5 separate regions of the Homo sapiens genome follow, and regions 1, 2, 4 and 5 are each linked to region 3. The links come from fine-mapping of genetic effects on gene expression. A gene starts in region 3. Each other region holds a variant in brackets. All regions are shown on one strand. Distances are from middle to middle. Region 1 overlaps ADGRL1 (adhesion G protein-coupled receptor L1). Region 2 has its middle 23 kb from the start of ADGRL1. Region 3 holds the start of ADGRL1 (adhesion G protein-coupled receptor L1). Region 4 has its middle 45 kb from the start of LINC01842. Region 5 overlaps ASF1B (anti-silencing function 1B histone chaperone).

Region 1 (5,000 bases), 38 kb before region 3:
CTGGTGCTGGGAGGGAGAGAGACTCCAGGAGAAAGAGAGGAGACTGGAGGGGTGTGGTGAGGGGGCGGACCTGGGGCCAGCAGCCCAGGCCTCTCTGAGATGGGGGAGAGGGGAAGACGGGGAGGGGAGCAGCTCAGAGGGACCCTGCCCCACCTCCTTCGGAAGGGATGCTCCACAGACCACTGTAATTTCAAGGCAAAAGGGATCCCTAAAGGCCATGTCCTCCAGCCCTGCCTGCTGCTGCCGGCCTCAGATGGGTAAATTTCCCAAAACTTTCTGGAGAGGAAATGGTCATCCCTAACATCTCACCCTAGAAGCCCCTCAGCAGCAGCACCTCCGCTCCCCCCAATAACAGCCAGTAATGGCCAGCCCCATCCACTAGGGAGTTCTCTGCTAGAAATTACGGAGTCTGTGGAAGTCCCCAGACTGTGCCCCCGCCGCCCGCCGCCCATCTCCCTGGTCCTCTAACCACAACAGCCCAGAAGAAACCCTGACTGCAGCTTTGCAAGTGTGAAAGAAACAGAGAACACGCTCCCCCACCCTTCGCTCCCCCAACCACGAGGCCCGCCCCCGCCCCCTCGCCCTCATTTTTTCATTTTTTGGCAGGCTGCCCCCTCCCAGGGCTGGGGACAGCTGACACCCCTCCCCAGGGCTGGGCCCCCAGCTGGTCAGAGATGGGGATCAGGTTGGGGGTGGGGAGGACTGGTGCTCCATGCTCCAAAACAGCTCTGGGCCTTGGAAACATCAAACCAGAAGGAACTTAAGCCACCAGGAGCCCGAGACATAGGAGAATCTGCTCCCCAAAAGGAAAACAATGGTGTCCCCTCCAGCCCGCCTCCCATGAACCAGAAACATGTTATAAAAGGTACAGGGGAAGGAGGAAGAGAGAGGGGAGAGACAGAGAGAGAGAGAGAGAGAAAGAGAGAGAGAGAGAGAGACAGCTCACCCGGTGCCCCAGTGGGGGAGCCGGGGAAGGGAGTCCCTCCCTCCCCACCCGCCCTGGATGCTTATACACTTCTCCTGAAGGAGGCAAAAGAAGTATGAGAAAAGGCCAGGTCCCCCGAAAGGGCCAGGGACCAGGAAGGAGGGACAGAGAGAGACAGAAACAGCGAGAGAGAGAAAATCCTGCCCAAGCTCAGAGAGGAGCTTCCGTGGGTATCTGGAGGGTGGAGATGCCCGTGGCCGCACCAGGGCTGGTCCCACTGGGAGGACAACCCAGGGTGGGGGATACCGACCGGACCAAGTGTGGGTTGGGGAGAGAAGAAGGGGCCGGGGGAGGGCAGGTCACATAAGTATGGTACAGGTAGAACAAAGTGTGAGTTAGGGGTTAGCATTGGTAACAGTGCGTTTACCTTTCTGCTCCACTTCTACTTTAAGCATCGGAAGAGAGAGAGAAAACAAATTGAAAAAAAAAATGTGCAAGAAAAAAAGAGAAAAAAAAAGAGATTAAATTGCTTTCGTTTCTTTTCTGGCAACACGCCCCCTTTTCCTTTCCTTCCTCGCTCCTGCTTCCCCAACCCCTTCCGTAGCATCAGCTCGGGCCCCCGCCCCCAGGTCCCTTCCTCTGGGGGTGGTCAGGTGGGGTGAGAGGGTGCTGGGGAGACAGTCAGAGGGACGAGGGGGACACACACAGGAGGGAGAAGACACAGAAAGACACAGGGGTGGTAGGGGGGTACAGGCAGGCAGACAGAGCCCTCAGGTGGGAGGGGGCACCCTTGGTGCAAGGCGGGGGCAGGGAGTAGGGAGCCCCAGCTGGGAGGTGGGCTCCGGTCAGAGGGGGCACCAGGGAGTGGTGGGGTGGATAAGCCACTCGGCTCCCTTCCCACCCTGCCTGCTGCCCTCCTGCTAGAACCAGGGGCCCCAGGGGAAGGATTTCAGTGTCTCCCAGGGCCTGGGCCCACCCTCAGCCAAGAAACAGGCTGAACTCCTTCCCCTTTATGCTGGCCTCACCCAGGTCCAGCTGACTTCCCCCAAGCCCTCACAACCCAGAAGAAGCAAACACAGAGAGAAGGTGGCAGAGCCAGACACAGAACGACAGGCAGACGGGCAGTTGCACCCGGGCCCCAGAGAGAGCCAGGGTTGGGGAGACGGAGGCAGAGAGGTGGCGGGGGTGGGGGACACAGACTGGGTGGGACAGCAAGTGGGGGCACAGACACGCTCCCAGGCTCCCCAGGGGCAAGTCTGAGGCTCGGCTTCTCTGCTCAACCCACCCAGGGCCCGGGGGCCCAGGAGCTGGGAGCTCCGCCCTGCCCGCTGCCCTGCGGA[C/T]GGGCGGCACCTAGGGGAGGAAGGGGCGCGGTTAGACTGTGCTCAGCTGCAAAGCAAATCCAGCATTAGTCGGGCTTGTCCACTGTGTGGGAGGGTTCCCACACATCACGTGCCCCCTGCCACCCACCCCTGACCCACCCTCACCAGCACTGGGGTCACCCCCAGCCTCTGAAGCCCTGGGCCAGGTGGCTGCCCAGGCCGCTCCCCCTCTGCATCCCTGGCCCCTCAGGAACTTCTGACTGGAGGGACTGGCTCTCCTGGCCCCTCTCTGAAGGTTCCAGCAGGGAGCTCCGCAGGGGCAGCCTCTGCCTCCCTTCCCAGCGCCTCACCCAGGGCCTGGCACTCAGGAGATGCTCAGTGAACATTTTGGGGACAAGTGAGTGCCTGGCCTCCCTGTCCTCTAGCTACCTCCTGTCCCCGCTTTAACTCCAGCCTCCTTCCTCTGGAGCATCAGGAGTTAGCTCTGCCCCCAACATCCACCCCGTATGTGTGCACACATGTCTGCGCGTGTGTGTGTGTGCGTGTGTCTCCTGTCTCCCCAAGGGCTCAGGCTATCTCTCTTCCATCAGACAGGCAGCCACTCATCCTCTGAACTGTCCTGCCCTCTGTCCCTGGAGCCTGCCTGGTCTCTGTCGGTTGTAGCCCCTGGACCACGCTCAGGGCCTCGGCTCCAGGAGGTTTCTCAGCTCCTCTCCTCCCCTAGCTTCTTTCCTGCGGCTTGACCTGAGCCTCTCGTCTACTTGCTTTGGCTTCCACCTGGACCGAGGAATTTTTCCTGCCCTTTATCTCACCTGCCTCGGGAGAAGTTGGGTCATTATCCGTTGTTATTTTAATTTTGATTACCACAGCAATAATCGTAATTGACAAGAGGCATTACAAGGAGCTGCAACAAAAGCAACGACTACCAAGTGTCCAGCACTCACGAGGGGCCAGCAACTATGCTACGCACCTCACTGGCCGTCTTTTGAGAACCCTGTCTACAGATGGGAAAACTGAGGCACACTGAAGTGAGGCCACATGGCTGGCGAAAGCAGGCACCATTTCCTTTGCATCTACAGCTCGGGTGCACACAAGCTTGACATGCGTTGTCGCTACTCCTTGTGGCTTCCCAGGGAAGGCTTTTGACCCCTCTCCACCCCATCACAGATGAATAAACAGGCTCAGCTGGCTTAAAGGGCATTGGTAATATTACTGAGCACATCCTGAACCAGGCATGGGTCTGGGCGCTGGGGCGGCGGGTGAAGACGAAGCCTCTGCCCTTGGGAAGTTTACACTCGGCACTCAAAACCCTGCCACCAGGAGCGACTTTGTGGCCGGCCCTGGGCCAAGCGCTTCTCACATGTCATCTCATGGACTCACACCTCCTTCCGTAGTGGCCCAGAGAAATTAAATCATTTGCTCAAGGTTTCAGAGCCAGAAAACTCAAGAGCCCAGTCGAGCCTTGAACCTACACCCATCTGACTGCCCCCCTGTGCTGAGCTCGCTGCCTCCCACCCCCCTTCCCCGCTGTCCCAGCCGCGGGAGTCAGCCGTGTCCCCAGTGCTGTGGGGAGGCTTCAAGGAGCAGATGGGCATCCCCCTCGGTGGTGGCTGAAGGCCTCAAGCGCTGAAAGGAAAGGACGAAGAGTAAAAGAAGAAAATTACGGAAGCACAGAAGGGATCCTGTTTCCCCAGCATCGAGTCACCTGTGAGGAGAAATCAAAGGCTGGCAGGGAAGGTTGGGGTGGGAGGGGAGAGGAGGGAGAGTTACAGGGCCTCTTAGTCCCCAAACCCGGCCCGCCACACTCAGACACCCTGATGGCCCTGCCTTCTCCCCACTCTTCCCGGAGGCCCTACCACCAGGTTGACTACATGGAACCCATTGTGGGAGGAGAAGGGAAGGGATAATGGGAAGGAGGGAGGGAGGAGAGAGGGCAGGAAAAAGGTGATGTCAAGGGTGGGGTGCTGAGGAGGAGAGACCTTGTCTTTGTCTGATCCCTTTGGCCAGGTGCAAGATGGCCAGGCTCCTGGCTCCCCAAATCACTTTCTTCAGGCTGCCTGGAGGCCACCCTCAGTCCAACATGGCGGCATTTCCTTTGCAGACAGGAAGTGCCACATGGTAATGGGGAGACCAGTGAGGAGCTATGAATCTGTTGAAAATGCCCCCCAGCCCTTCACCCTGAATCTGCCACCAGGCCTCAGAGGATGGTATCCCACTCTATGGGTGTAGAGTCCAGCTTCCATGATTGGGAAGAAGTGTGTGGGGAGTGAGGGTGCTGAGAGAACGGTGTTGAGAGGGGCAGTGGGGTAAGTGAGAGGGAAGAGAAGGTAGATGAGAAGGGTCAGAAAAGGTCAGAAGAGTCAGAAAAGGAAGGGATGTGAGAAGGCGAGGGAGGCAGATGGGGGAGAAAAGCATAGAGGCCAAGGGAGAAGAGAGAGACGTAAGTGTGCCAGGCAGAGCACGGGACCATGGCCTGGCAGTGTGGAAATGAGTATAGGGTGCATGAAGAAGCAGGGTGAGTGGGCTGGGGTAAGGAGAGCTGGAGAAGGTGTCCCCACAGGAGGGGACAGAGTCTGTGAGGCGGGGGAGCAGGCACTGAGTGTGGACACTGGTGTCTGGGATTAGAGAATGTGTGTTGGAGAGAGCAGGCCCGGCTGTCCCCACTGTGCCCAGGCCCCATGCATGTGTGCACATGTGTGATGGGTCAAGGTGTCTCCTCCTCACTCACTCATGCGAGAAGGGCCCGCATCCGCACA
Region 2 (5,124 bases), 23 kb after region 3:
CAGCACTTGCTAAGCCCGTTCCTTATATAGCATGAACTCATTTAATTCAGTTGTGTTTTTTTTTTTTTTTTGAGACAAGTCTTGCTGTGTCACCCAGGTTGGAGTGCAGTGGCACAATCTCGGTTCACTGCAACCTCCGTCTCCCAGGTTCAAGCAATTCTCCTGCCTCAGCTTCCCGAGTAGCTGGGATTACAAGCACGTGCCACCACACCTGGCTAATTTTTGCATTTTTAGTAGAGACAAGGTTTTGCCATGTTGGCCAGGCTGGTCTCGAACTCCTGACCTCAGGTGATCTGCCCATCTAGGCCTCCCAAAGTGCTGGGATTACAGGCATGAGCCACCACGCCCAGACAAGATTTCATCTTTAGAGGAAGTCAGGCATCCAGATTTTTATGCAAAAATCACCTGAGGTCTGGCACTGGTGGCTCAGGCCTGTAATCCCAGCACTTTGGGAGGCTGAGGGGGGCGAATCACTTGAGTTCAAGAGCTCAAGGCCGCCTGACCAACATGGTGAAACCCTGCCTCTACTAAAAATAGAAAAAAACTAGCTGGGCCTGGTGGCCTTTGCCTGTAATCCCAGCTACTTGGGAGGCTGAGGCAGGAGAATCGCTTGAACCTAGGAGGCAGAGGTTGCAGTGAGCAGAGATCACACCACTGCACTACAGCCTGGGCGACACAGCGAGACGCCATCTCAAAAACAAAAACAACAACAACAACAATGAAAAAGCAGCCTGTATTTAAAAGCTAGCAAGTCATGGGCCGGGCGCGGTGGCTCACGCCTGTAATCCCAGCACTTTGGGAGGCCGAGGTGGGCAGATCACAAGGTCAGAAGATCGAGACCATCCTGGCTAACACGGTGAAACCCCGTCTCTACTAAAAATACAAAAAATTAGCCGGGCGTGGTGGGGGGCGCCTGTAGTCCCAGCTACTCGGGAGGCTGAGGCAGGAGAATGGCGTGAACCCGCAAGGCAGAGCTTGCAGTGAGCCAAGATCGCGCCACTGCACTCCAGCCTGGGTGACAGAGTGGGACTCCATCTCAAAAATAAATAAATAAATAAATAAATAAATAAATAAATAAATAAATAAATAAAAGCTAGCAAGTCATTACAAAATGTTTTTAAAGCCTGCATGGACCAAGCCAATTACATCTGTGGGCTGGATTCAGCTCTGGGGCGGACACAGAGGGAGGGGCGGGGCATTTAGTGAAGGCGATGCAAAGCATCATGGGTGAGTTGGGGACCACATGGGCCAGGGGGTTTGACTAGGTGGTGCCTAGGCGGGTGCCAGCATGTTTGTCGGGGCTGGCGCGGTGGAGGGGGCGTGGTTTAAACTGAACAGGTGTTTTGGGTCTAGGTTGGAAAGGACCTTTGGAGCCACGATAACATTTTTCAATTTTGAAGAAGTCAGTGATAGCTTTTAAACAGCTGAATGACTCAGTCATGCCTGTCTGTCCCCATCCCCCAATCCCAACACCCAGAAAGCTGTGAATCAGGCTTTCTTTGGGGGTGGAGGGACAGTAGATCCATCCATGAAGGAAACAAACTAAACAGCCCCCGTCTTCCAGCGCGCTCACAGCCGCCGGGGAGAGGGGGAAGGTGTCCTTAGTAAGGTTAGGATAGGATGGCAGCCGTGATGGTGGGACCGTGGCAGAGGGTTAGTGGTTGTCTGCAGATATGGGAGCCACTGCTATGTGTTCAATGCACTAAGGATGCAACGACGAACAGGACAGACATGGCCCTGCCTTCAAGGAAAAAGACTGTGAAGGAGGAAGGAAATAAGGAGAGACGGTAATTCCAGGGGGTGATGAGAAAATGTAAAAATTAAAATAGCAGGATGGGGGATGGGGCTCAGATCGGCAGCCTACAGGCCCAGGAGACAGAGCGGGTGGGCAGGAGGATGGAGGATGGGGAGCGGGGGTCCTCAGTGGCTCACAAGCCACCGCTTGCTCCCTGGGACCCAGCAGCCTGGCTGGGCCTCTGTCTCCCCAGAATCACCCTATCACACCAAGAACAAACCCACGGCTGACATAGATTCCTGACTCCGAGCCCAAGCAAGGGGGAGAAAGGGGAGGAAAAAAACACCCATCTGTTCTTCCTCTGATGGAATGTGATTTTTCACCCAGTGCTTAAACCTCGAGCTTCTCCTCCCATTTCCTCTCGGCAGCCGCAGCGAAGCGATATAAATCGCTGTAAATGGGTTTTCCCGGCCGGTTGCCGTGTTGTTTTAATAATGGTTCATTTTCTGCCTGGGGGGAAAAATAGTTGGTAAAGAAATTGAGGAGGGGGGGTTCATTTTGTGTGTGTGTGTGTGATTGTGCGTGTGTGTGTGTGTGTGTGTGTGTCCTGTTGCCTTAGAGAAGATTCCCGAATATTCCACTGGGACACCAAGTGACC[C/T]GTCCAGTTGGGGAATTGGGGAATTGCTGGTCAGAGAACCAGTGCATCCCACTTGCCTGGACAAAAGGGATTCCTTTTTTTTTTTTTTTTTTTTTTTTTTTTTGAGACTGAGTCTTGCTCTATTGCCCAGGCTGGAGTGCAGTGGTGCAATCCCGGCTCACTGCAATCTCCACCTCCCTGGTTCAAGCGATTCTTCTGCCTCAACCTCCTGAGTAGCTGGGATTACAGGCGCCCGCCAGCATGCCTGGCTAAGTTTTGTATTTTAAGTAGAGACAGAGTTTCGCCATATTGGCCGGGCTGATCTTGAACTCCTGACCTCAAGTGATCTACTCACCTTGGCCTCCCAAAGTGCTGGGATTACAGGCGTGAGCCGCCGTGCCTGGCCGAAAGGGATTCATTTGCAAACCTCCTGGGCACATATATTAAGCACTAACTGTGTGCTATGCCTGACTAGGTGCGTGGGATATGTAAATGAATAAATCTCCCAGGCCCTGACCTCTCTGGGGGCTCACATTCTAGAAGCAGAGAGAGCAACATTAAGACATCACTCTGCCAAACTAGGTAATTACAATTGTGGAAACTGCTCTGAGGAGACTGTTGAGTGCCACGGGAATGGAAAACGGATCTTGGCAGGGCTGGGCTGAGCATGGTGGCTCACAGCTACAATCCCAGCACTTTGGGAGGCTGAGGCAGGAGGATCGCTTGAGGCCAGGAGTTTGGGACCAGCCTGGACAACATAGCAAGACCACCAACTCTAAAAAAAAATTTAAAAATTAGCTGGGCGTGGTGGCACATGCCTTCTAGTCCCAGCTACTTGGGAGGCTGAGGCAAGAGGATCACTTGGACCTAAGAATTTGAGGCTGCAGTGAGCTATGATCATGCCATTGTACTCCAGCCTGGGCCACAGAAAAAGATCCCATCTCAAAAAGAAAAGAAGGCTGGGCATGGTGGTTCATGCCTGTAATCCCAGAACTTTGGGTGGCCGAAGTGGGTGGATCACTTGAGGCCAGGAGTTCGAGACCAAACTGGCCAACATGGTGAAACCCCGTCTCTACTAAAAATACAAAAATTAGCCAGGGGTGGTGGCTCATGCCTGTAATCCCACCTACTCAGGAGGAGGCAGGAGAATTCCTTGAACCTGGGAGGCGGGGGTTGGAGTGAGCCGAGATTGTGCCACTGCATTTCAGCCTGAGGGACAGAGTGAGACTCTGTCAGAAGAGAAAGGAAGGAAAGGGAAGGGGAGGGGAGGGGAGGGGAGGGAAGAAGAGATCTTGGCATAACCCAAACCCCCTTCAGAAGGGTCACCCTGGCTGCTACTTTAAGGATAGGCAGACAGAGGGAGTTGTGGGAGGGAAGGCCAGTCAGGTGGAGAGACTTCCTGGGCAAACTTCTGGAGGTTGAAAGAGTGTGATGTGGGCTCTGACCTGGGAGAACAGTCATGGAGCCAAGGATAGTGGGGGCGGGGGATGCTGGGGTCCTGGGGAATGGCGTGGGGAGTGGCCAGAGACTTGAGGACTTTTGTCTTGTTCCTGAGCAGAGTCTTCCATTCCTCCGGCATTGAGACTTTTTTTTTTCTTTTTTTTTTTTTTTTTTGAGACAGGGTCTCACTCTGTTGCCCAGGCTGGAGTGCAGTGGCGTGATCTCGGCTTACTGCAGCCTCCGCCTCCAGGGTTCAAGTGATTCTCCCGCCTCAACCTCCCTAGTAGATAGGATTACAGGCATGCACCACCATGCCAGTTAATTTTTGTATTTTTAGTAGAGACAGGGTTTCACTATGGGTGAACTTGCTGGTCTCAAACTCCTGGCCTCAGGTGATCTGCCTGCCTTGGCCTCCCAAAGTGCTGGGATTACAGGCATGAGCCACCACACCCAGCCAGGCTCTTTTTATAGACAAAGATGTTAGCGTTCTCGCCCTCTCATCTCACAGGGCATGAGGTCTCTCTCCAGCCTCTTGTGTGAAGGCACAGGTCCCATTCACGAGGTCTCCACCCTCCTCATCTCCCATAGGCCCCAATTCTTAACACCACGACCTGGGGGGTTAAGATTTCAACATATATTGGCCAGGCATGGTGGTGCACACCTGTAATCCCAGCACTTTAGGAGGCCAAAGTGAGCAGATTGCTTTGAGCTCAGGAGTTTAAGACCAGCCTGGGCAACATACCAAAAACCCCATCCCTACTAAAAATGCAAAAATCAGCCAGGTATGGTGGTGGGCGCCTGTAATCCCAGCTACTCCGGAGGCTGAAGCTGGAGAATCACTGGAACTCAGGAGGTGGAGTTTGCAGTGAGCCGAGATTGCGCCACTGCACTCCAGCCTGAGCAACAGGGTGATGAGACTCCATCTCAAAAAAAAAAAAAAAAAAAGATAAAAAAGATTTCAACATATAAATTTGGGGGGACACAAACATTCACACCAAAGCACTTGGCTTGCCAAGTCATCTCCCCACCCCAGCCCCATCCGTTTACTCCCTACAGTTGGTTGAATGACAGTCCTCCAAAAATGTACATTCATATCCTAACCCCCAGAGCCTGTACGTGTGATCTTATTTGGACAAAGGGTCTTTGAAGTTGTATTTATGTGAAGAATCCTGACATGAGATCATCCTGAATTAGAATGGGCTCTAAATCTATTAATAAGTGTCCTGGCCGGGTGCGGTGGCTCACGCCTGTAATCCCAGCACTTTGGGAGGCTGAGGCAGGTGGATCACCGAAGGTCAGGAGTTTAAGACCA
Region 3 (5,124 bases):
CTGCCAGCCATGGAATTAGTTCCCTTTTCCGAATTCCAGATGATTTTTCATCTCTGTAATTAATGGGCAAGTCAGTTCTGAACGGCATGGCAGACAAATTGCTAGTTAGGAAAATCACGGATAATTTTCTCGATATGATAATGAAGGTTGTAATCCTTCTCTTATTCTCCCTGTTTTCATCCTACTTTTAAGTAATAAATTTGGCATTAGTGGGAGGGGAGCAGGGAGGAAGGAGAAGTCACCTGCCCCCCAAAGCTGGGGCCTGACAGGGACCCACGCAGAGTCCCCTGCCGGGGGCAGACAGGAGAAGAGAATGAGGGGTGTGGACCCTCCGTGGGGTTGATCAATTCAGGGGGCCAGGCCCTGGAGAGCAGGTGGAGGGCACGGAGCTTTCAGGCTGTGAGCCAGGGTGAAGGAGTGGGGTCTGGGGTCAGGTTAGACTCATGCCAGCCCTTGGGGTGTTGGAGAGAGAAGCAGAAACCAATGGTCTGTCCCCAAACAGCATGGAGGTCAACGGCCCGGAATAGACATTCACCCTCAGGTGTGCCCCACTGGATCCGACCTCCTCTAAGCAGTGACTCCCTACCAGGATAAGGGAGCCGGGCAAGCAGAGAGGGGAAGAGAGAAAGACAGAGAGAGATAGAGAAAGACAGAGAGAGTGAGAGAGAGAGAGAGAGAGAGAGAGAGACAGACAGAGAGAGAGAGAGCGCGCGAGCCAGCCATCTTGGCAGCCATTTTGAACCCCTCCCCCTCCTGCCCCCAGGCACACATGTTGGGAAGTGGGATGTGGGAAGACAGACCCCAGCTCTGAGTCCGGTGGAAGCCAGGCGGAAGGGGGGGCCCTGCCTGGAACTGGGATACAGAAACACCCACGCAGCTGGCATGGCTGGGGGTGGATGGGGGTTGGAACAGGAAGAAAGGGTCCAGGCAGGTACAGTGAGGTGTTGGCCAGGGATGGGGCAGTGTGAGGACCCGGACTGGAAGTGTAGAGACAGGGGTGTGTGTAGCCAGCGGCTGTCTTCAGATGGGGGCCAGGGGTGCACTGGAGAGATACCTGGGAGGGCATTTTCTGGACACGGCTGGAGCAAACACAGCATCCCCCCACCCCACCACTTCAGGCCTGGACTCGGGTCCCAGGACCGTCAGATGGGAGGATGACAACCAAACCCTCGCAGCTCAATCCAATGCGCACCTGGGGTGGGGGTGGGGAGCTGTCCTCAAAGCACGAATAATCCGAGTGGATCAAACCTGCCGGCCTCCCGTGCTTTAACCCGGCACCACGGAGAGAAGGTGCTGCCCGGCTGCACCCCCTCCTCCTGACAGCGGCGCCCCCCGGACTGCGGCCGGCTGGACACCCAGACGGACCCCTCCCCATCCCCCGCGCCACTGCCTCCCAGAGAAAAACAACCCCCTCGCCCAGCATCCTGTGGTGCCAGCCCCCGACACGGCTCCTCTGGGGCGCGGGGCCGGCGCGCGGCGCGCACACGCACCCCCTCCGCTCACACCCAGACACCTACACAAACAGGGCGCCAAGCACCCGCGCGCACACGCACCGGGGACACGCAGGCACCGCCGCGCCGCTTCCCCACAAAGGCTGGCGCGCGCGCGGGCACACGCAGCCACGCGCGGGCACACTCGCGGTCCCCTCCCCCCGCCAGGCACCCTGCGGTAGCCCGTCCGCACCCCCGCGCCCCGGGCGCTCCGTGGGGGCCGCCCCTCCCAGGCCCCTCGCCAGTGGGGGTGAGGTGCGGGCTGCCCCCGACGCCCCTCCCGCTCAGGTGCGGTGCCCCGCGCGGCTCCCGTGTCCCCTCCCCCCTCGCGGCCAGGACAGGCCCCGGCCTCCCATCCTTCCCGCCTCCCCTCTTCCACGCGCCCCGCACACCTGGCCCAGGTGCGGCTTCGCCCCTCGCCCTGGGCCCGCAGACACTCACCTGTCCAGCGCCTCTCTGGGGTCGGCCCAGCGTGTCTCTCCTGCGGCTCGGCGAACCCGGGCCCCCCGCCCGGCACATCTCCCGGAGCCGGGGCTGGGGGGAAGCGGGTAGGAGGTGGCGGGACGAGGGCGGCCTCCGTGTCCCTTCCTTCCCCTGGCCCAGCACCGCCGCCGACCAAAAATTAGGAAAAAAAAAAAAAAAGAAAAGAAAAGAAAAAAAAGAGGCGGATTACACGGATCCAAAGGCGGCCCCCTCGCGGCGGCGGAGGCTCGGGACTGGGGGCGATCGGGTCTGCGCCCCTCCCGGGGAGGGAGGCGGTGGGGCGGGGGCGGCGTCAGAGCGCCGGGGGCTGGGGCGAGGCGGAGCGCCCCGAGGCGGCGCCGGCAGCGGCCCGCATCTCCCCCGCAGCTCCGCGGCCCCGACGGAGGCGGCACGTGTGCGCCCAGGCGACTTCCCAGCCCCCTCCGACGCCGGCGGTGGACGAGGGGTTAACGGGGCAGCCGGGGCGCCCCTGCAGGCCCCCGCCGCCCGGCGGCGCCGCTCCGGGGCCCGCGCGGCCCCATCAGCCGGGGCCTCCTCGGCAGACGGCGGGGCGGGGGCACCGCAGCGCCGACAGCTCCCGCGCCGACGGCTCGGGCTCCCCGCAGTGGCCGCGGGGAGCTCGGGTTGGGGGCGGGCGGCGCGGAGCTGGCGGAGGGGGGCGGCGCGGCTGGAGGCGGGTGCCGCGGCGTCGCGCCCCCGGTGCGGCCGGAGGGGGGGCGCCGGGCCGGGCCCGTGGGCACCGCAGGACGCGCGGACCGAGCCGGCGCCGGGCACCAGCAATGACAAGCCGCCTGCTCGCCCCGCTCCCCGGCGCACCCGCTCCGGGAGGGGGGCGGTGGGCGCGCGCAAAACCCGGCCCGGAGTCGCCGCCCGGGACTGGCCGCCGCAACCCGCTTGAGCGCCCCAGGAGCCGGCCCGAAAACCCGGGCTGGACTTTCCTTCCTTTCGCCTCCTCTCGCCTCCTCCCTGGAAAAGCAGGGAGAGGGAAAGCGACGTGCTGGAGCCCCGCGTTGGAGCGGGGAGTGGGGGAAGGGAGACAGGCGTAAGGAAGACCCGGAGCGGATTTTCCAGTGAAGTATAAGGAAAGGCGCCGAGCCCGGGGAAGGAGGGCGCAAATGGGGAGATCTGGAAGGGTTGTGCAAAACCCGAGTTGGATTAGATAAAGATGGGAGGAACGGTGTTGGAGCGGGGGGTTGGGGGGTAGATGCGACATGGCCAAATGCACCCGGGGCACGCAAATTTCGGGCCGGATTCTTTCTCGGGAGACGGAGTAATGCGTCAGGCCTAACGCAGTGGAAACAAGCAAGACCCGGCCCGGAACTCCCGGGACCTGGGTTCGCATGGTGGGGGGTTCTGGAAGGGGGATGCTTAGTGGCTGAGGCGACTTGGGCTGCCCTCATCTTCCTGGCAGCGACGTGCAAGGGGGACGGGCAAAAGGAGGACTGGACTCGGGTACGAAGGGATTTGGCGCGCTGGCTGCACCGGAGCGGACAGGTAAAAGCGGTTTCTGGATCCAGGGGCGCTGCGAAGGGAATGCGATGAGGCCGCTACCCTGGGAGACCAGACCTACAATAAAAGGCGAGGGAGGCACGCAAAGCCAGGACTGGAGCGCGGGACGGGATGAGACCCTCAGCAGAAGATCCTGGGCCACCGGGACAGGGGCTTGGAGCTGACCGGGCAGCAGGGGCGGAGGGAAGCGTTAGGGGGAGGTTTGTACCTGTAAACGCCTCAAAGTCTTGCTTTTGGGGAGGGGGTGCGAGGGGAAAAATTGAATTTTATGTTCTCTAAAAGAGTAAAAACCCGGCATGGATTTTCAACACCTAACAACTCCATTGCAGCTGGTGGACTCTAAGAAGTAGGGCAAGAAGCAGGCTTGGGTTCCCAGGCATCAGACCAAGTGAGGCGAGGGGCAGGTTTCGGGTTGAGGCTGCAGAGGGAGCCCCCGCACCCCCTCTCTGGGGTGGGGAAGGCTGTTGGACCCGGCTTGGCTCTCTGGAGAGCGAAAGTTATGACTGCCAAGACCTATAGCTGGGGCTATAAAACTGGGCCCCAAGCCAAAAATAGGCACTTCGGCAGAACAGGCAACTTTGTGCAGGGTGGGGGCTGGAGGGAAATGGAAGTGGGAAGAATCCTGGAGTGGAGGGAACAGGGGGGAGGGGGGGAGTCCCTGAAGCGGGGCTGCTGGCTCCATTTTATGAAAGATGGGAAGACTGATGGCTGGGGAGGGCTTGGAATCCTCAGGGAAGGGAATCCATTCAAGTGAGGCCCAAATGTTAAAGCAGACAGCTCAGAGTTCAAAGTTGGGCTGCATCTTAGCAGCAGGGCAGACAAACCCTGATCTGAGTTTTAGAGGAGGGGGACGGGCTGAGGATGGGGATGGGGGAAACCCCCATTCCCTATATGTCCAGGGAAGAGAGTGCATTGCTAACCATGCGCTTTGCAGAATGAATGAGGAAAGGGAAAAGGGTTCCTGAGTAGGAGTGGTAAATCCACAAAACTTGAGGCATATCTGGATGGGAAAAATGAGTATCTAAGAAAGCCTGAATTGAATATCTGCACGGGAATTAACTTGGCCTCTAAGAATCCCTTCCTAGAAGCACGTCCCTGTGGCTAAACTGGAGGAAGTGCAGGGACACCAGACTTCCAGGCTGCCCGGGTGACCACGCACCACTGCTGTGGCAGCCTGTCACCCTCCACCGCCTTCTACGGACAGCTGTCTCTTCACGACGGGGAAGGGATTCTTGAAAGCCAGAACCTAGGCAAATCTGGCCCCAGAGAACTTCAAAATGGAGGGATGGGTCACTTTCGTTCCTCCTTCATGCCCAGGATTTCATGGCTGCAAAGCTGTCCAGCCTTGAATCTGGGTGGCCAGGTTGGACACCGGGATCTGGGGGACCAAATATAAAGTAGGATTTGGTGAGTGCAAAACGGATCCCATCCATCTGTGGTTGACTGCAGATCCACTGGGTATGGAGGAGGGCATCCCATCTCTCTACGCCTCAATTTCCCAGTTTGAGATATTGACAGCACCAAGTAAGACCCATGAAGGCTTTGAGATGGAGGGCACTCCAGGCAGCCAGCTTTCTATAAACCCAGCAGTACCGAAAAGGGAACAGAACTTGACGCTCAGGAAAAGCTGGTCACCTCCTTG
Region 4 (5,124 bases), 82 kb after region 3:
GCACTTTGGGAGTCCGAGGTGGGAGGATTGCTCAAGGCCAGGACCTTGAGACCAGCCCGGGAAACATAGCAAGAATCTCTCTCTGCAAAAAAATACAAAAATTAGCCAGGCACGGTGTTGCGTGCCTGTGGTCCCAGCTACTTGGAAGGCTGAGGTGGGAAGATCACTTGAGCCTGGGAAGTCGAGGCTGCAGTGAGCCAAAATCATGCCATTGCTCTCTGGCCACCCTGAGTGACAGAGCAAGACCATGTCTTTAAAAAAAAAATAAGTTGGCCAGGCGTGGTGGCTCATGCCTGTAATCCCAGCACTTTGGGAGGCCGAGGCAGGCAGATCATCTGAGATCAGGAGTTTGAGACCAGCCTGGCCAACATGGGGAAAGCCCGTCTCTCCTAAAAATACAAAAATTAGGCGGACGTGGTGGCAGGCGCCTGTAATCCCAGCTACTCAGGAGGCTGAGGCAGGAGAATCGCTTGAACCCGGGAGGCGGAAGTTGCAGCGAGCCTTGATTGCGCCACTGCACTCCAGTTGGGAGACAAGAGCAAGACTTCATCTCAAAAAAAAAAAAATAATAATAATATAAAAACATCACATTCACAGGTTGCAGGGGCCAGAGTGTGGACACATCCTTTTGGGGGGCCACCATTTGACACACTATATTCCCTCCTGGAGCTGCAGCCCTGGCCGTGAAAGGAAAGGAGAGGAAAGCAAGAAGGAAGGGGCCCTAGCACCACCCAGACCCCCAGAACATGACGCTGGTGGGGATGGAGGAGAGGTAGAAGGAAATAGGATTGAAGTCTAAATCAAGGCCCCAGCTTGGGTCTGGACATTCCTTGTTTTGAATTGAAGCCAAGCTGCCCTGTGACTAAGGCGACTCCAGGAACATCTGTTATCTGAGATGAACAGAGAACAAAGTCATAAGGCTAAGATTTTATCAAGGGGATTGCGGGGCAGGGGGGACACATTTCCCTGTGAAAAGCATGTTATAGAGATCATGACAGATCAGCCCTTGACCGGAATTCACACAATGCTGGTTCATTTCATCACAGGGACCACCTGACCCCCAGGATTGTTCTAGAAGGTCTTTTTCTCTACCATCTCCACACCAATCCCTCTCCACCTGCCGCTCCCACCTTCCACTGGGTCCCCATCCTCCTCTGGGCTGGGGCCCTGCCTGCCTGCCATCCATTCACTCAACAAACACTTATTATTATTATTTTTTGAGACACAGTCTCGCTCTGTCGCCCATGCTGGAGTGCAGTGGCACGATCACTGCTCACTGCAGCCTCTGCCTCCCAGGTTTAAGCAATTCTCATTTCTCAGCCTCTCGAATAGTTGGGATTACAGGCATGCATCACCACACCTGGATAATTTTTGTATTTTTAGTAAAGACGGGGTTTTGCCATGTTGGCCAGGCTGGTCTTGAACTCCTGGGCTCAAATCTGTCCGCTTGGCCTCTCAAAGTGCTGGTAGTTACAGGTGTGAGCCACTGCGCCCAGCCCTAACACTTATTGAGCACCTGCTGTATGCCAAGGGCCAGGGAAGGGGGCGGCATACAGAGCCAGGAGGGAACAGTGTGGAGGAACTTCCCTTTTGGAGCTGACTTTCCAGTGGGAGACCTGGGCGATGACAAGATGAACAAGGAATGAATATTCTGTGTTGTAGCCAAAAGCAGCCAGTGCAATGGAGAAAATACAGCAGCCTCAGGCCTGTAATCCCAGCACTTTGGTAGGCCGAGGCGGGCGGATCACTTGAGGCTAGGAGTTCAAAACCAGCCTGGTCAGCATGGCAAAACCCTGTCTCTACTAAAAATACAAAAATTAGCCAGGTGTCATGGAGCATGCCTGTAATCCCAGCTACTCGGTAGGCTGAGGCAGGAGAATCACTTGCACTCGGAGGTGGAGGTTGCAGTGAGCTGAGAGCACGCCATTGCACTCCAGCCTGAGCAACAGCGCGAGACCCCGTCTCAAAAAAAAAAAAAAAAAAAAAGCAATAAGAGTCTGTGGATGTTGTAAATTGGGTGTGTGTGCATCAGAGAAGGCTTCCCTGGGGAGGGGCACAAGTGAAGGGAGACCTGGAGGAGGTGAGGGAGGAGCCATGTGGATATCTGGGGAGGATGACTCAGGCAGAGGGAACAGCCTGTGCAAAGGCCCTGAGGCAGGATGTCTTTGGTGAGTTTGGAGAACAGTAAGGAGGCCCATCTGCTTGGAGAAAGCTGGGTTTTCTGGCCTCCGTGAGGACTGGAGTTTTGCTCTGAGTGAGGCAGTTGGTAAGGAGAATAATGCCCTCCTTCCCAAGGTATCTACTTCCTCATCCTAAACTTTCAAGATCTCATGGCCTGGGGAGGATAGGAGAAAGGGGCTGGTAACTGCTCCAGCGGGTTGATAAACATGGGTACTTCAGGGAGGCTTCCTGGAGGAGTGTCAAGCATATGACTGGCTTGAATTGCGGGAGAGGCAGGCTGAGCAGGGAGCAGGTGCCCAGGGAGAGGCAGAAGACAGGTCAGACACTTAAAAGTGTCTAAAGGAGAAAGACTCCTTTGGACACAGCCAGGCCCTGAGAAGCAGGGTTAGTGAATTGCTACCTCATGCAACAAAAGGGACTTTGCTGATTAGGTAATTAAGGATCTTCAGACAGGGAAATGACCTTGGATCATCTAATCACACAAGTCCTTAAAATGCAAGGGGGCGGCAGAGGGGAGTTGAAGGCTGTCATATGAGAAGGACTTGACTCGTCATTGCTGGCTTTGAAAATGGAGGGAGGGCCCACGAGCCAAGGAATGCAGGCAACTTCTAGAAACGGGGAATGGACAACCAGCAAGAAAACAGGGCCTCAGTTCTACAACCCCAGGGAACTGAATCTTGCACCCCTAAATGAGCAAAAAATAGATCATCCCCTAAAACCTCCAAGAAAGGACTGCAGCCTGCTGACATCTTGGTCTTAGGCAGGTGAGACCCTGAACCACATCTCTGACCTCTAGAGCTGTAGGATAATTTGCGTCGTTAAATAAATGCTAGCTAGTGACGGCAACCATGGGAAATTAACACAAGGTGGGAGCTTTCC[C/G]GGTTCTGAGCGGGAGGAGGGGGCGTGGCCTGATCAGGTGTTCGCTCGCGCCCTCTGGAGGCTGCGGAGGGAACAGGCTTCAGGGCCAGGCTGGAGACCTGAGCAAGGGTAGAGGGAACTGCACAGTCCAGGTGAGGGATGCTGGGCTGGACCAGGTGAGGGATGCTGGGCTGGACCAAGTGAGGGCCGGGGAGGTGGGGAAGAAATGAAGTCCGAGGTTTGAACGTGGATGGAAAGAGAAAAAAAGAGAGGACTCCAGCGGGGCACGGTGGCTCACGCCTGTAATCCCAGCACTTTGGGAGGCCAAGGTGGGAGAATCACTTGAGGTCAGGAGTTCGAGACCAGCCTGGCCAACACAGTGAAACACCGTCTGTACCAAAAATACAAAAAATAGCCAGGTGTGGTGCTGCACGCCTGTAGTCCCAGCTACTCAGGAGGCTGAGACAGCAGACTTGCTCGAACCCGGGAGGCGGAGGTTGCAGTGAGCCTAGACTATGCCATTGCACTCCAGCCTGGAAGACAGAGTAAGACTCCATCTAAAAAAAAAAAAAAAAGAGAGAGAGGACTCGAGTCAAGGATGACCAGAAGCCTCTGAGCTGGGAACTTGGAGTCTCCTGTTCCCTCCACCCCAACTCCACTAGTCCCTACCTCCCCTTGGCCTCACCTGCCAGCAGTTGTCCCAGGCGGAGGCCACATGCTTCCCTCTCCTCTGAGGCCTTGCCCCTGCCTGTGACCTCTCACTTGTCATATCTGCTGTCTCTGTTCTCAAGACAGGAAGTCAGATGGGAGTTGAAGACGGCTGGGACCTGTGAGTCCCCAGGCCCCCAGAGGGATTCCGGATTTGAGAGTCGGCCTCCTCCCTCCCATCCAAGCCCAGCCCTGCCAAATCAGCTCCCAGCTCACTCCCTGGTCTGCACCTCTTTCTCTGTCTCTTTCTCTCTCTGGAATTTTCATTCTCTTTTTGGTAACCGAATTATCCCATCTCCACCTCTCACTGGGGGCCGCCCGCAGAGGCGTGGGCGAGGAGGGGCCCGGGTCGCAGCGCGAGATATTAAACCATCAATCACCCGCCAACGCCGACTCCCCCGCACCAGGACCCTCCATTGGCTCCACCTGGAAGCAGACCAGCTCCAGTGCAGGCCTGGAGGCCTGGGGACCCCATCAAAATGGGAGGCCTTGGAAGAATCTCACAGGCCCTGCATCTACCTGGGCAGGTGCCTGGGTGCAGATCGGCCTGGCTCAATGCACAGACAAGGTGTCCTGGGTTCAAATCCACAAGCTACTTCTTATCCACACGTGGGAGCCACTGCATTGTTCTGTGTCTTGGTTTCACCACCTGTAAAATGGTGATAACAGCCGGGCATGGTGGCTCATGCCTGTAATCCCAGCACTTTGGGAGGCTGCGGCAGGCAGATCACCTGAGGTCAGGACTTCGAGACCAGCCTGGCCAACATGGCAAATATATAAAAATCTCTACTAAAAATATAAAAATTAGCCAGGTGTGGTGGTGTGCCCCTGTAATCCCAGCTACTTGGGAGGCTGAAGCAGTAGAATCACTTGAACCCAGGAGTCAGAGGTTGCAGTGAGCCGAGATTGCACTACTGCACTCCAGCCTGGGGGACAGAGCGAGACTCCGTATTTAAAAAAAAAAAATGGTGGTAACATTTTCTACATCATTGGGGTTCACTGTCAGGATTAAACCAGTTAAGGCAGATGGCAATATCTGGCTGATAGTAAGTCCTGTCTAGGATTTGCTGCTAGAATGATTTTCCTTCAAGATTGGGGGGGGGTCATTCACTTGTGAAAGAAATCCAAGATTCTGGCTTTTGAGGGGACTTAATGGGGTTCATACTTGTGTCACCTCACAGCTGCTGCCTTGTATAGGTTGGAATTGGATTTTTTTTTTTTTTGAGATGGAGTCTCGCTCTGTCACCCAGGCTAGAGTGCAGTGCACAATCTTGGCTCACTGCAACCTCCGCCTCCCAGGTTCAAGGAATTCTCCTGCCTCAGCCTCCCGAGTAGCTGGGACTACAGGCACGTGCCACCATGCCCAGCTAATTTTTT
Region 5 (5,124 bases), 81 kb before region 3:
TGGAAACACAGAATCAATCCCACAAATGACTACAAAACGTTGACTGTGGCAGGGAGAGGTGCGTGGTACTCTGGAGGAGTGTGGTGAGCCGGGGGACAGTGGCATGAAGCTGAACAGGTGAGGCAGGTGGTATCAGGCCACCCGGGGGCCAGCTAAGGGATTGGGAAAGGGCAAGAGAGTAAGCAGGAGGTTAAGTGCCACATCACTCTTGTGATCTGAAAAGAAGCCTCTGGCAAAGTGTGGAGCCGTGACAGGAGACTGTAGTGGAGCAGAAGGCTTACACCAGTCATCCTGGAGAGGCAGTGGACTTGGCTTAGACCAGGCAGTAAAGAACAGATTCAGGGTGTACTACTGCAAACAAGACCAGCCACGTAATTGGTGCAAAATAAAACCAATGCAAAATGAAAACACCACGCCCCTCCAGAAAAGCTATTAGGTTTCAGACGGTGACAGCAGAGTATCGCACCAAGTGTGGGGTCCTGTGCAGCTGCCTGGGTTGCACACCCAGGAGGCCAGTCCTGACTGTTGAGTAGATAGGGCCTGTCAGTGGATTTAGTAGTGGTGGCTGAAGGGGTTAGATAGGATGTGGTAGCTTGGATTAGGGCGGTAACAGCAGTGATGGAGGTAAGGGAGTGTATCCGAGCAGAGGATCCTGAAAAATCACCTGGAGAACTCAGAATCTCCATTTGTTTTTTCTTTCTTCTTTTTTTTTTTTTTTTTTTTTGAGATGGAGTCTCACTGTCACCCAGGCTGGAGTGCAGTGGCGTGATCTCGGCTCACTGCAAGCTCCGCCTCCCAGGTTCACGCCATTCTCCTGCCTCAGCCTCCTGAGTAGCTGAGACTACAGGTGCCCGCCACCAGGCCTGGCTAATTTCTTGTATTTTTTAGTAGAGATGGGGCTTCACCATGTTAGCCAAGATGGTCTCAATCTCCTGACCTTGTGATCCGCCCACCTTGGCCTTCCAAAGTGCTGGGATTACAGGCGTGAGCCACTGCACCGGCCTTCTTTTTTTAAAGAGATAGCTTTTCCCTCTGTCATCCAGACTGGAGTGCAGTGGTGCAATCACAGATCACTGTAAACTCCTGGAACTCCTGGGCTCAAGCGAGCCTATTTTTTTTTTTTTTTTTTTTTAGAGACAGGGTCTCACTCTGTTGCCCAGGCTCGAGTGCAGTGGCGCAATCTCAGCTCACTGTAACTTCCGCCCCCTGGATTCAAATAATTCTCGTGCCTCAGCCTCCCGAGTAGCTAGGATAACAAATGTGCACCACCACATCCAGCTAATTTTTGTATTTTTTAGTAGAGACAGGGTTTCACCATGTTGGCCAGGCTAGTCTTTAACTCCTGACCCCAAGTGATCTGCCTGCCCCAGCCTCCCAAAGTGTTGAGATTACAGGTGTGAGCCATGGCACCTGGCCTCAAGTGAGTCTTCTGCTTCAGCCTCCCTAGTAGCTGGCACTACAGGCCTGCATCACTATGCCTGGTTAATGTTTTTTTTGTAGAGACAGGTCTCGCTGTCACCCAGAATGCAGTGCAGAGGTGCAATCATAGCTCGCTGTAGCCTCAAACTCTCAGGCTCAAGCAAGCCTCCTGCTTCAGCCTCCCAAGTAGCTGGGACGACAGGTGCAAGCCACCACACCCGGCTAATTTTTCTATTTTTTGTAGAGATGGGGGTCTCGCTATGTGGCCCAGGCTAGTCTGGAACTCCTGGCCTTAAGCAGTCCTCCCGCCTCTGCCTCCCAAAGTGCTGGAAGCCACCACACCCGGCCAGAATCTACATTTGACAACCCAGGTGGGGTGCTGCATGAGAGCCATTTAGGAGTTACAGTCCATCCTCATTATTCATGGGTTCCATATGTGCAAGTTCACCTACCTGCTAAGTTTATTTGTAACCCCAAGATGAACACCTGCTTGCTTTCACAGTCACTTGCAGACATGCACAGAGCAGGGAAAAACTGGAGTTACCTACCATGCCTGTTCCCACCTAGAGTTACCTACCACGCCTGTTCCCACCTGAGGTCAAACAAGGCAACACTCTGTCTTCTGGTCTCAGCTCTCACTGTGAATGAGCGTCCTTTCCTCAGCCTACTTAGTGCTTTTTTCCATGTTTTGTGCTTTTTGTTGGTGAGTTTGCTGTCTATGATGGCACCCAACGGTAGTGCTGAAGTGCAGTGTAGGATACAAGAAAGGCTTTATGGAAAATATGCGTATTAGAGAAGTTTCATTCAGGAGAGTTATAGTGCTGTTGGCTGTGAATTCAACATAAATGAACCACTGTATATATTAAATAAGGTATCTTTCCTTTTTTTCTGAGACAGAGTATCGCTGTATCACCCAGGCTAGAGTGCACTGGTGCGATCTCAGCTCACTGCAATCTCCATCTCCCAGGTTCAAGCGATTCTCCCGCCGCAGCCTCCCGAGTAGCTGGGATTACAGGCATGCGCCACCACACCTGGCTGATTTTTGTATTTTTAGTAGAGACGGGGTTTCATCACATTGGCCAGGCTGGTCTTGAACTCCTGACCTCAGGCGATCCACCCACCTCAGCCTCCCAAAGTGCTGGGATTACAGGTTTGAGCCATCATAGCCGTCCTGGTGTCTTTT[C/T]AACATAAACACACATACAAGTTTACGTATTAACCAGCTGACGAAAATGTGACTTCCAAGAATCTAACCCTGTATTTCCCCTGGGGCAATGGTTCAGTATTCACTAATTCAGTGTTCGCGGCAACTTTATAGAACGTAACTCTTGTAAATAATGGGAATTGCCTGTAAATCAGTGGCAGCTTTGACACAGAGGTGGGGGAAGGGAGGGCCTGACGGCCTCTGAGAGGTCAGATAGTTCCTGACAGTAGAACTAGGATTTGAACCTGAACTTTTAAATTGTTTTAATTGATTGATTGAGACTGGGTCTTACTGTTGCCCAGGCTGGAGTGCAGTGGTGTGGTCTTGGCTCATTGTAGCTTCCATCTCCCAGGCTCAAGTGATCCTCCCATTTCAGCCTCCCAAGTATCTGAGACTACAGGCGCACACCACCATGCTCTGCTGATTTTTACATTTTTTGTAGAGATGCGGTCTCACTATATTGCCCCAGCTGGTCTCAAACTCCTGGCCTCAAGCAATCCTCCCACCTCGGCCTCCCAAAGTGCTGGGATTACAGGTGTGAGCAACTGTGCCCGGCCTCTATGTTTTTAATACTTGTTTTTTTCTTTTTTAGAGACAGGGTCTCACTGTGTTGCCTAGGCTGGAGTGCAGTGGCTCACTGCAGCCTCAGACTCCCGGGCTCAAGCAATCCTCTCACCTCAGTCCCTGGAGTAGCTGGGTCTATAGGCGTGAGCCCGTGCCCAGCTGAACTTGAACTTTTGATTCCTGAAGCACTCTGTGGGATTTCAGGTAAAAGAGGATGTTTCTAGGAATCAAGGGCTAAGGCCTAAGGCCTCATCTTTCTTACCTGAAAGACAAACATGTGTCTCCCTGCTGGCACAGGGCCCACCAGCACCGAGTCTAGGATCTGATCAAATTCCTCACTCTCAGCCGAGCCAACATAAATGATCTTCCACTCCAGGTCTGCAAAGATATAGGAGGGTTAACTAATTGAAATAGCTCAACAGCAAGAAGGCAGGGATAGGCTCTTGTATTTTTTTTTTTTTTTGAGATGGAGTCTCGTTCTGTCACACAGGTTAGAATACAGTGATGCGATCTCAGCTCACTGCAACTTCCGCCTCCCAGGTTCCAGTGATTCTCATACCTCAGCCTCCCGAGTGGCTGGGATTATAGGTGCCCGCTGCCACGCCTAGCTAATTTTTTTTTTCTTTTTTGAGATGGAGTTTCACTCTTGTCACCCAGGTTGGAGTACAATGGTGTGATCTTGGCTCACTGCAATCTCTGCCTCCCAGGTTCAAGCGATTCTCCTGTCTCAGCCTACTGAGTAGCTGGAATTACAGGCACCTGCCATCATGGCTGGCTAATTTTTTTATTTTTAGTAGAGACAGGGTTTCACCATGTTGATCAGGCTGGTTTAGAACTCCTGACCTCAGGTGATCCACCCGCCTTGGCCTCCCAAAGTGCTGGGATGACAGGTGTGAGCCACTGTACCTGGCCTGTTTTTGTATTTTTAGTAGAGATGGGGTTTCACCATGTTGGCCAAGCTGGTATCCAACTCCTGACTTCAAGTGATCTGCCCGCCTCAGCCTTCCAAACTGGTGGGATTACAGGTGTGAGCCACTGCGCCCGGCCACATCTTCTATTTTATTTTTATTTACTTATTTTTTGAGACAGTCTCCCTCTGTTGCCTAGGCTGGTGTGCAGCGGGATGTTCATGGCTCACTGTAGCCTCAACCTCCTGGGCTCAAGCGATCCTCCTGCCTCGGACTCCCACCATGTTGGGATCACAGGTGTGGGCTGCTGTGCCCAGCCTTGTGGTAATTTTAGACAGATCCTTAATATGTTAAAAGACTATTATTCCATCTGTCAGACACTTAGTGCCAGGCACTGCAGTCTTGAATGCTGAGGTGGGCACAAAGCTCTACCTCCATTAGGGAATTCTGTCTTGTAAGCCTAGCTATGACAGGTGACCTTGACTATACCTCTGGGGAAACCTGGGCCTCTCAAGGCCTGAGCGTGAACTGTATGGCAGAGGCTGAATTAAGAGCCACGTGACACAGACGTGCTGAGAAGGGAACGGCAGGGAGTTGGGTCATTTCAGGGCCCTGCCCACTGGGTGCTGGGATAGGAAGCAGCATCCTCTTTCACACACAGGGACCGGTGCCACTCAACGAAGTGGATCCCTCGACAACTGGGGCAGGGTGGCAGATTCCAATCCGGCAGGAGAGCCAGCCTGCAGGAGGGGGAAGGTGAGGTTGCTCAGGGAGCCAGCCACCCTGGTCTTCCAGATCTGGCACCAAGTCATGCCTACTTAGAGACATTTGGGCAACTCAGTCAACAAATGTGGCATCCCGGGGTGATCCTCCAAACACTTTTTTTTTTTGACAGTTTCACTCTTGTTGTCCAGGCTAGAGTGCAATGGTGAGATCTCGGCTCACTGCAACCTCTGCCTCCCGGGTTCAAGTGATTCTCCTGCCTCAGCCTCCTGAGTAGCTGGGATTATAGGCGCCCGCCACCACAGCCGG

Evidence for each region. PIP is the estimated chance that this variant, and not a neighbour inherited with it, causes the effect.
Region 1: its variant is fine-mapped to the expression of ADGRL1 in whole blood (TOPMed, PIP above 0.99). The same link has a PIP of 0.9 or more in T cells and blood mononuclear cells.
Region 2: its variant is fine-mapped to the expression of ADGRL1 in subcutaneous fat (GTEx, PIP 0.99).
Region 4: its variant is fine-mapped to the expression of ADGRL1 in whole blood (TOPMed, PIP above 0.99).
Region 5: its variant is fine-mapped to the expression of ADGRL1 in whole blood (INTERVAL, PIP above 0.99).

What each region holds. Positions count from the first base shown.
Region 1 is chr19:14,165,664-14,170,663 of GRCh38, forward strand. The region is part of intron 4 of ADGRL1 (adhesion G protein-coupled receptor L1); the gene reads right to left. It overlaps ADGRL1-AS1 (ADGRL1 antisense RNA 1), which reads left to right. Exons shown (of 3, transcript NR_045214.1): 3 at 3,114-5,000. Among named protein-coding and RNA genes, the nearest start is that of ADGRL1-AS1, 31 kb to the left of the region's middle. RefSeq lists an enhancer at 1,788-2,287 and a silencer at 2,158-2,347. The variant C/T (reference allele first, on the strand shown) is at 2,266.
Region 2 is chr19:14,226,718-14,231,841 of GRCh38, forward strand. No RefSeq gene overlaps it. Among named protein-coding and RNA genes, the nearest start is that of ADGRL1, 23 kb to the left of the region's middle. The variant C/T (reference allele first, on the strand shown) is at 2,394.
Region 3 is chr19:14,204,054-14,209,177 of GRCh38, forward strand. It overlaps ADGRL1 (adhesion G protein-coupled receptor L1), which reads right to left and starts at 2,116. Exons shown (of 23, transcript NM_014921.5): 1 at 1,932-2,116. RefSeq lists silencers at 2,730-2,789, 2,810-2,909.
Region 4 is chr19:14,285,903-14,291,026 of GRCh38, forward strand. No RefSeq gene overlaps it. Among named protein-coding and RNA genes, the nearest start is that of LINC01842, 45 kb to the right of the region's middle. The variant C/G (reference allele first, on the strand shown) is at 3,061.
Region 5 is chr19:14,122,676-14,127,799 of GRCh38, forward strand. It overlaps ASF1B (anti-silencing function 1B histone chaperone), which reads right to left. Exons shown (of 4, transcript NM_018154.3): 2 at 3,447-3,562. Among named protein-coding and RNA genes, the nearest start is that of PRKACA, 7.5 kb to the left of the region's middle. The variant C/T (reference allele first, on the strand shown) is at 2,603.